2 separate regions of the Homo sapiens genome follow, and region 2 is linked to region 1. The links come from fine-mapping of genetic effects on gene expression. A gene starts in region 1. The other region holds a variant in brackets. All regions are shown on one strand. Distances are from middle to middle. Region 1 holds the start of SYS1 (SYS1 golgi trafficking protein). Region 2 overlaps SYS1-DBNDD2 (SYS1-DBNDD2 readthrough (NMD candidate)).

What was found. PIP is the estimated chance that this variant, and not a neighbour inherited with it, causes the effect. A credible set is the group of variants that fine-mapping cannot tell apart.
Region 2: its variant is the best candidate, but not a certain one, in a credible set for the expression of SYS1 in monocytes after interferon gamma (Fairfax 2014, PIP 0.59).

Annotation. Positions count from the first base shown.
Region 1 is chr20:45,361,147-45,365,406 of GRCh38, forward strand. It overlaps SYS1 (SYS1 golgi trafficking protein), which reads left to right and starts at 2,010. Exons shown (of 4, transcript NM_033542.4): 1 at 2,010-2,169; 2 at 2,383-2,547. The coding sequence starts at 2,386. SYS1-DBNDD2 (SYS1-DBNDD2 readthrough (NMD candidate)) reads left to right here and starts at 2,023. Exons shown (of 6, transcript NR_003189.2): 1 at 2,023-2,169; 2 at 2,383-2,547. LOC124904914 (a long non-coding RNA gene) reads right to left here and starts at 2,222. Exons shown (of 2, transcript XR_007067609.1): 1 at 1,922-2,222; 2 at 1,210-1,680. RefSeq lists an enhancer at 1,740-2,179.
Region 2 is chr20:45,394,924-45,399,183 of GRCh38, forward strand. The region is part of intron 3 of SYS1-DBNDD2 (SYS1-DBNDD2 readthrough (NMD candidate)); the gene reads left to right. It overlaps LOC107985404 (a long non-coding RNA gene), which reads right to left. Exons shown (of 5, transcript XR_007067608.1): 4 at 3,856-4,260. Among named protein-coding and RNA genes, the nearest start is that of DBNDD2, 11 kb to the right of the region's middle. The variant T/C (reference allele first, on the strand shown) is at 2,129.

The DNA of each region.
Region 1 (4,260 bases):
TTCTCAGAAACACTAGATCATGTGCATAATCAGTGAACTAGAGGAATTTGAATACATATTTGTTGGACTGAATTGAGGTGCCTAAAAGAATGGTTGAGCTGGAAAGCACCTAAGAAATCTTTGGGCCTTAATAACTCCCCAACTGGAGTCCAGGGGAACTGTTCAGGGTATTTCCAAATGATAAGGACAATCGCACACTCTCAATAAAGTCTCAAGTTTCTTTACTTTTGTCTGGAATTGTATCAGCTCAAGGTGATAACACGGCTACCACAAGCTGTTCAGAAATTCTGATTGGCAGTTACATGGCTCTTTGATACGTTTTTTTTTTTTTTTTTTTGAGACGGAGTCTCGCTCTGTCGCCCAGGCTGGACTGCAGTGGCGCAATCTCGGCTCACTGCAAGCTTCGCCTCCCAGGTTCACGCCATTCTCCTGTCTCAGCCTCCCGAGTAGCTGGGACTACATGCGCCTGCCACCAGGCCCGGCTAATTTTCTGTATTTTTAATAGAGATGGGGTTTCACCATGTTAGCCAGGATGGTCTTGAACTCCTGACCTTGTGATCTGCCCGCCTCAGCCTCCCAAAGTGCTGGGATTACAGGCATGAGCCACTGTGCCCAGCCTAAGTTTTTTTTTTAATGAGAAAATAATTACTGGAAGGTAGATTAAATGGTGGAAAACGTTAATCATGTCCAACTCCTCATTTCATAAACAGGGAAGCTGAGGTTTAAAGAAGGAAGTGGCTTGCTGGTCACACTGGGTGGCATAGCTGGCCCTAAAACCCAAATTCTTTTCCTGGAACAACTTACTTCCCGTCTTTCCACTTCAGAGAGGGGGAACCTAGGATCAATGAAGTTGATGGGTTTTCGTCTGCTGGAGTAGGAATAAGTGAGTTATCGATTTGCTCTTGCTTTTTCTGTTCTTAACTCATTCAGCAAATATTTACTGACTGTCCACTATTCGGATTTGGAAGATAGATAAAACAGTCATGGCAGCAGAGAGGGTCAGGATTTACTCCTATGTGCGACTTCAGAACCTGTGCCTTTTTCCACTGGACACCCACATTTTAAAACACCCACTACTCTGCCTTCTAATATAGTTCATCTGTGTCTCAGGGCAGGGGCTGTCTTATATATACATGTTCTAGCCTTCCTGCCACCGAGTAGGTGCGAAATCAATGTTGTAGTGTTGAGGAAACACTTGAATTTTATTTATTTATTTATTTATTTATTTATTTATTTAGAGACGGAGTTTTGCTCTTGTTGCCCAGGCTGGAGTGCAATGGCGTGATCTCGGCTCACTGCAACCTCTGCCTCCCGGGTTCAAGCAATTCTCCTGGCTCAGCCTCCCGAGTAGCTAGGACTACAGGCGTGCGCCACCACGCCCCGCTAATTTTGTATTTTTAGCAGAGACGGGGTTTCTCCATGTTGGTCAGGCTGGTCTCGAAACACCGACCTCAGGTAATCCGCCCACCTCAGCCTCCCAAAGTGCTGGGATTACAGGCGTGAGCCACCGCGCCCGACCAACACTTGAATTTTAATACTTACTTTGCTACTAACTGTGTCGTTGAAACAGTATGTTGCTTTCCTTCTCTGGCCCTTAGCTTAACTATCTGTACAGCGGGAACATTGGCAAACTCCTACGTGGAGGAGCTTGCAGGTCCACTTCAAGTTATCAGACTCTAACTAGGAGAAAACATTGAGAATTTAGGCTGAAAATAACGACACAGTTTATCACCTCGTTAATTCCCAAACATCATTACCGCGTCCTAAGCCACCCCACTTGCCTCTCCCCTAGCCGCCTTCCTTTAAAAAAAGAATTCCCCTCTAGAGGGCGCGCAAGCTCTGCGGCCTTCGTTCCTCTCTTCCGTTTGCCTTCACTCTTCCTTCTGCGCATGTGCTCAGTTCGCTATCCGGCTGCTTGTACCTGGTTCAGGAGGTTCAGGCAGAGGTTGCACCCACTACGCCTGCGCAACCTCAGCCCCGCCCCTCCGCTGCTTTCCCCGGAAACGTTTCTTTCCTACGCAGCCGCTCCTGCCGCCGTGGTCGCTGGAGCTTTGCCTCTCTAGGCCGGCAGCGCCTCTCCTCCATGGTCCTGTCTGTCAGCGCTGTTTTGGGAGCCCGCCGGTGAGGCCGGGCCACGCTCAGACACTTCGATCGTCGAGTCTGTCACTGGTGAGTAGACCCCAGAGGAGCTCGTGTACGGGCGGGGGCCGCGCAGGCGGAATGGGCTGGATTTCCCCTCACTCTGAGAATGGGTCTGTCTGCCCCGCCTTCCCCCTGACTCTTGGAATGGGCTCACCCCTTGGTTCCAGTCCCTCCTCCCGGGCGGGGCGACGTTGCCATGGAGACAGGCCGCTGGCTGAGGCCCGGCTCGTGTCCCTGCAGGGCATGGCGGGTCAGTTCCGCAGCTACGTGTGGGACCCGCTGCTGATCCTGTCGCAGATCGTCCTCATGCAGACCGTGTATTACGGCTCGCTGGGCCTGTGGCTGGCGCTGGTGGACGGGCTAGTGCGAAGCAGCCCCTCGCTGGACCAGATGTTCGACGCCGAGGTAGGGTCCCCGGACTGGGGCGGGTGGGGTCTCGGCCTCCCCGAGTAGGCTTTGTGGTCCATCACTACTGTGCTGTAGACGTGGCTGGGTCACCTTCTTTCTTTGTAGCCCTGGGAAAGGGATTTCACCTTTCTGAGCCTCAGCTGCCTCATCCATAAAATGGAATGACAGCAGAGGCTGATTAGTACAAAGAAAAGGGCCTGGATGTTAATACAATAAACACGTCTGTGTTCCAGGCAACTCTGATACATTTCCTTTCTGATACTCTGGGAAAGTGACTTGATTTCTCTGAGCTAGGTTCTCAGGTGCCACATCGGAGAGAGGGGTGGATAAAAGAGCATTCGTGCGGGTACAGTGGAAACTGCCTGGACTTTGGGGTCAGACAGGCGTCCGTTTAAGATCCACTTACTAGCTGTGTGACCTGGGGCAAATGTCACCTCTGTGAACTTGTTTTCCTGTCTTCAAAACCATGAGACTAGTTGCAGAGAGGTCGTGGACTGCAATATAAAGAGCATGTGCTTTGGGTTCAGAAAAGCAAGGGTTCAGTCTAGGCCTAAACATATAAAACTAGCTGTGGGACCTTGGGCAAGTTGCTTCCCCTTTCTGAGCCTTTTCTGAAAAGTGGGCCGGATGCTCCTACCATGTTGCCCTCAACAAAATGTTACAAGGCCCAGAGGGGTTTAGGAATAAGAAGGTACTTTGTAAAGTGTAAAGGAGGCCTATAAGTTGTTACATCTAAGAGGCAGCTGTGGCGTGGTGATGAGCACAGTTCTTTTTTTTTTTTTTTTTTTTTTTTGAGACGGAGTCTCCCTCTGTCGCCCAGGCTGGAGTGCAGTGGCAGGATCTCGGCTCACTGCAAGCTCCGCCTCCCGGGTTCACGCCATTCTCCTGCCTCAGCCTCCCAAGTAGCTGGGACTACAGGCGCCCGCCACTACGCCCGGCTAATTTTTTGTATTTTTAGTAGAGACGGGGTTTCACCGTTTTAGCCGGGATGGTCTCGATCTCCTGACCTCGTGATCCGCCTGCCTCGGCCTCCCAAAGTGCTGGGATTACAGGCGTGAGCCACCGCGCCCGGCCGAGCACAGTTCTTAAAGCCAGGAGACCTGGGATGGAGTCCTTGCTCCTGCTGCTTGTTCTCTGTGTTAGCCCTTGGGCAAGTTATTATCCAAAAAGTGATAAGAATTAAAAGAAGAAGAATGGCTTTGTGAGGTTTTTTTAGGGATAATATGAGATTATGTATGTCAAAGACCTTTCTTTGTCAGCTGAAAGTGTGGTGCAGATGTTTGGCATTTGATAGTATTGTGTTGGATAGTGGAGGTTGCACACCCACCATATGCCTAGTTGTAGTCTCGTAGGAGACTCTATGCTCCTGGGAAGAGCTGTGGGAATGCCAGGCTTTGTTGAAGAGCCATATGATGCACACAACCTGAGTTCTAGCCTAGGGATCAGCAAACCTTTCCTTTAAGGGTGAAGTAGTAAGGATTTTAGGTCACAATTATTCAGCTCTGCCATTGTAGCACAGAAGGCTGCTATAGACAAATATATAAGTGAATAGGTGTGGCTGTGTTTCAATAAAACCTTATGTACAGGAGCAGATGCCAGGCCTATGGAGCCATAGTCAGCTGAACGCTGTTCTAGACTTTACTCTTGTTGTTTATTACTTTGGGCAACTTAACTTGTCTGAGTTTTTACGTCCTCCTTTGTAAAATGAGA
Region 2 (4,260 bases), 34 kb after region 1:
AAATACAGCACCCCCACCTCGCTGAGCGGCTGCCGGTGATGAGAAAGAGAGAAGAGCTGCAGCCCTTCTGGGGGCCCAGATCTCGGGGCTCCCTGAGGCAGGGCTGTGACATGCTGTAACACCCTCTTTGGGGCTCTGCAGTTCCTGGTGTCTCAGAGCTTTCAGGTGCCACTGCGTTCCCCTGGTCCAGACGCTGGTGCCTATAGCAGAGGTCGCTTGGGGTAGGTCTGGTCCAGCCAGAGCCTTGCATGGAGCTGGTGCCTGTGCCAGTGCCTGGAGCTGCTCACGTGGCTGCGGCAGCTTGTGTGCCTGGCTCTGTGTGGTGACTGGACCTCACGCTTGCTCACACACCCCCCCACCACTCCATGCCTGGCTTACCCTTGGTAGGCATGGGATCCGGGCTGCACTAGCCAAGCACAGCCTGCCAGGTGAGTGGGCAGAACGAGTGGGCACAAGCAAAACTCCAGCAGAGGCACCACCAGCCACAGAGGTTTTGCACTGACCAAGTGACACCCAAAGGATCCCGTGACATAACCTTGGTACAGTGTAGGAGAGGACTGCCCGGATGTACATGATAGGTGGTAAGGAACATTGGGAGGTGTTTTGTGGCTGACTGTGGCCACAAAAATTTCCATTTTATTCCATCCAATATGTTTTTCTTTTTTTCTTTTTCCTTTTTTTTGTTTTAGAGTCTCGCTCCGTTGCCCAGGCTGGAGTACAATGGCGTGATCTCGGCTCACTGCAAACTCCGCCTCCCAAGTTCAAGTGATTCTCCTGCATCAGCCTCCCAAGTAGCTGGGATTACAGATGCATGCTACCATGTCTGGCTGATTTTGGTATTTTTAGTAGAGACGGGGTTTCACCATGTTGGCCAGGCTGGTCTCGAACTTCTGACCTCAAGTGATCCACCCATCTCAGCCTCCCAAAGTGTTGGAATTACAGGCATGAGCCACTGCACCTGGCTGTTTCTTCTTCTTTCTTTTTTCTTCTTCTCTCTTCTTTTTTCTTCGTCTTCCTCCTCCTCTTCTTCTTTCTTCTTCTTCTTCTTCGACTGAGTCTCGCTCTATCACCCAGGCTGGAATGCAGTGGCATGATCTAGGCTCACTGCAACCTCCGCCTCCTGGATTCAAGTGATTCTTGTGCCTCAGCCTCCCAAGTAGCTGGGATTAGAGGCACCCACCACCACGCCCAGCTAATTTTTGTATTTTTAGTAGAGACGGGGTTTCACCATGTTGGCCAGGCTGGTCTTGAACTCCTGACCTCAAGTGATCCGCCCGCCTCGGCCTCCCAAAGTGCTGAGATTACAGGCGTGAGCCACCACACCCGGCCTATTTTATTATTTTTTTGAGATGGGGTTTCACTCTGTTACCTGGGCTACAGTGCCGTGGTGTGATCTCGGTTCACTGCAGCCTTGACCTCCCAGGCTCAAGCGATTTTCTTGCCTCAGCCTCATGAGTAGCTGGGACTACAGGCATGCACCACCATGCCTGGCTAATTTTTGTATATTTTGTAGAGATGAAGTTTCTGCCAATGTTGCCCAGGCTGGTCTCAAACTTGTGGGCTCAAGCGATCCTCCCAGCTAGTCTCCCAAAATGCTGAGACTACAGGCATAAGCTCCTGTGCCTGGTTCAACACTTTTTTTTTTTTTTTTTTTTTTTTTGAGACAGGGTCTTGCTCAGTTGCCCAGGCTGGAGTGCGGTGGTGGCATCTCAGCTCACTGCAACCTCCACTTCCCAGGATCAAGTTATCCTCCTACCTCAGGCCTCCAAATAGCTGGGAATACAGGCATGAGCCACCATGCCCAGCTAATTTTTATATTTTTTGTAGAGACGAGGTTTTGTCATGTTGCCCAGGCTGGTCTCAAATTCAAGGTCAAGCGATCCACCTGCCTCAGCCTCCCAAAGTGCTAGGATTACAGGCCTGAGCCAGTGTACCCAGCCATGTATTTTCTAATATCCCTTGGACTTCATCTTTGACTCATGTTTTATTTTGAAGTATTGGGATTGTTTTTCAGTTATCTTTCTGTTATTATTTCTATTTAATTCTGTTATGGTCATACAACATAATTTAAATTCTTCTAAATTTGTTGAGGATTGTTTTTGTTGCCCAGAATATGATGAATCTCTCA[T/C]TGAATGTTGTATGTGCAGTTGAAAAGAATGTTTATTCTGCTGTTGGTGGGTAAAGTGTCATGAATATAATTAGGAGAAATTAATGATAGTGTTAAGGTTTTCTATATCCTTGCTTTTTTGGTGTACTTATTTTATTGATTATTGAGAGAGAAGGGTTGAATTATCTAGGTGCAATATAGATTTTTTCTGTTTCTTATTTCAGGTCTACTGGTTTTTACTTCATATATTTTTGAAGCTCTGTTGTTAGTATATACACTCTTATGACTGTTAAGTCTTCTTGGTGAATTGAACCTTTTATTATTAAATAATACCACTTTTCCTCCCTGGTAATAGTCCTTCTTAAATCTACTTTGTCTGATATTAATACTGTCACTCCAACTTGCTTGGTTTCATGTTTGTATGGTGTGTCTTACTCCATTCATTTTTTTTTTAGGGATCCAATTCCTCTACACATCCTTTTACTTTTAACCCATATATTTCTTTATATTTAAAGTGGGTCTTGTGGACAACATATTATTGCCTCTTACTTTGCTCCCAATCTGCTAATTTGTCTTTTAATTGATTGTCTTTTTACTGATACACTGGATTAAAATCTATCACCTTGTTATTTGTTTTCTAATCTTTCATCTGTGCTTTTTTTCTTTTTTCTTCCTTGATTTGGATTATGTTTCGAAAAGGAAAACTCCCAATCTCATGGGTGCTGCAAGTAGACAAGATGTATTGCATCTGATTGAAATAGTTTATTATTCATAGCACAACAAACAGTGTGAACATCAGCATAGTTGTATTGGTTCCCCTGGTCCTACATTCAACAGATGATGCAGTGAGCCCAGATGCATGGTATTCACACAGTGGGTTTGCATTGTAGCTGAGGGACCTAGGCCCAGCACTTTTTATTTTATTTTATTTTATTAATTAATTAATTTATTTGAGACAGGGTCTCACTGTGTTGCTTAGGCTGCTCTCGAATTCCTGGACTCAAGTGATCCTCCTGCCTCAGCCTCTCAAAGTGCTGGGATTACAAGCATGAGCCACCACGCCTGGTCCCAGGACATTTTTATAGCAAGCAGTAAGCAAGCCTGCCTTGGTCTGAGAAATGATCTCACCTCTCAAAACTCTAGCTGTACTAACAATCCTGAACAAGGACCCAGGTGAAAGAGAGGTCTGGGCCTTGTGATCTTGACATACTCAGCAAGACACGTTGGACACAAGTGGCCTAGGGAGGAAGCCTCCCAACATTAGAAAAAATTATTATATGTACTTGTTTTCATGTTCAACAGTCATTTTAAAAAATAAATTTTATTGTATATGTTTAAGGTATACAACATGATGTTATGGAATACATAGATATAGTAAAGTGATTACTATAGTGAAGCAAACGAACATATCCATCATCTCACATAGTTACCTATTCCAGCATTTTTATGATTCCATTTTCTATTATTGGCTTGTTACTTACACCTCTCTAAAAAAATTTTTTTAGTGGTTGCTATTGAATTTACTATATCTTTAATCAGTCTATCTTCAAATAATGTTATACCACTTCTTATATATCATAAGGACCCTTTAACAGCATATTTCCCATTCCTCCATCTCCTCATTTTTACTGTTGTTATTGTCATACATTTCACTTTTATATATGCTATGAGGCCACAATGCATTGCTTTAGTAAAGCAGTTACCTTTTAAAGTGAGTAAAAATGAGAAACAATGTCTCTTATATTTACCTTTATTCTATCTGTTTCCAGAGATCATCATTTCTTTATGTAGATCCAAGTTTCTCTCAGGTATCATATTTCTTCTGCTTACAGAACGTCCACTGGTAATGAATTTTCTCTCTCTCTTTTTTTTTTTTTGATCTGAAAAAGTGTATTTCCTTCATGTTTGAAAGATGTATTTGCTAGGTATAGAATTCTGGATTGGCAGTTTTTTGTCTTTCAGCATTTTAAAGATATGACTCTATTATCTTCTGGTTATATAATTTCTGATGAGAAGTCTTCTGTAATTCTTTGTTCCTCTGTAGGGAGTGTGCCTTTTTCCTCTAGATGCCTTCAATATTTTCTCTTTATCTTTGGTTTTCAGCAATTTGAATATGATATATTAGGTTGTGTTTGCATGTGCTTCTTTGTTGT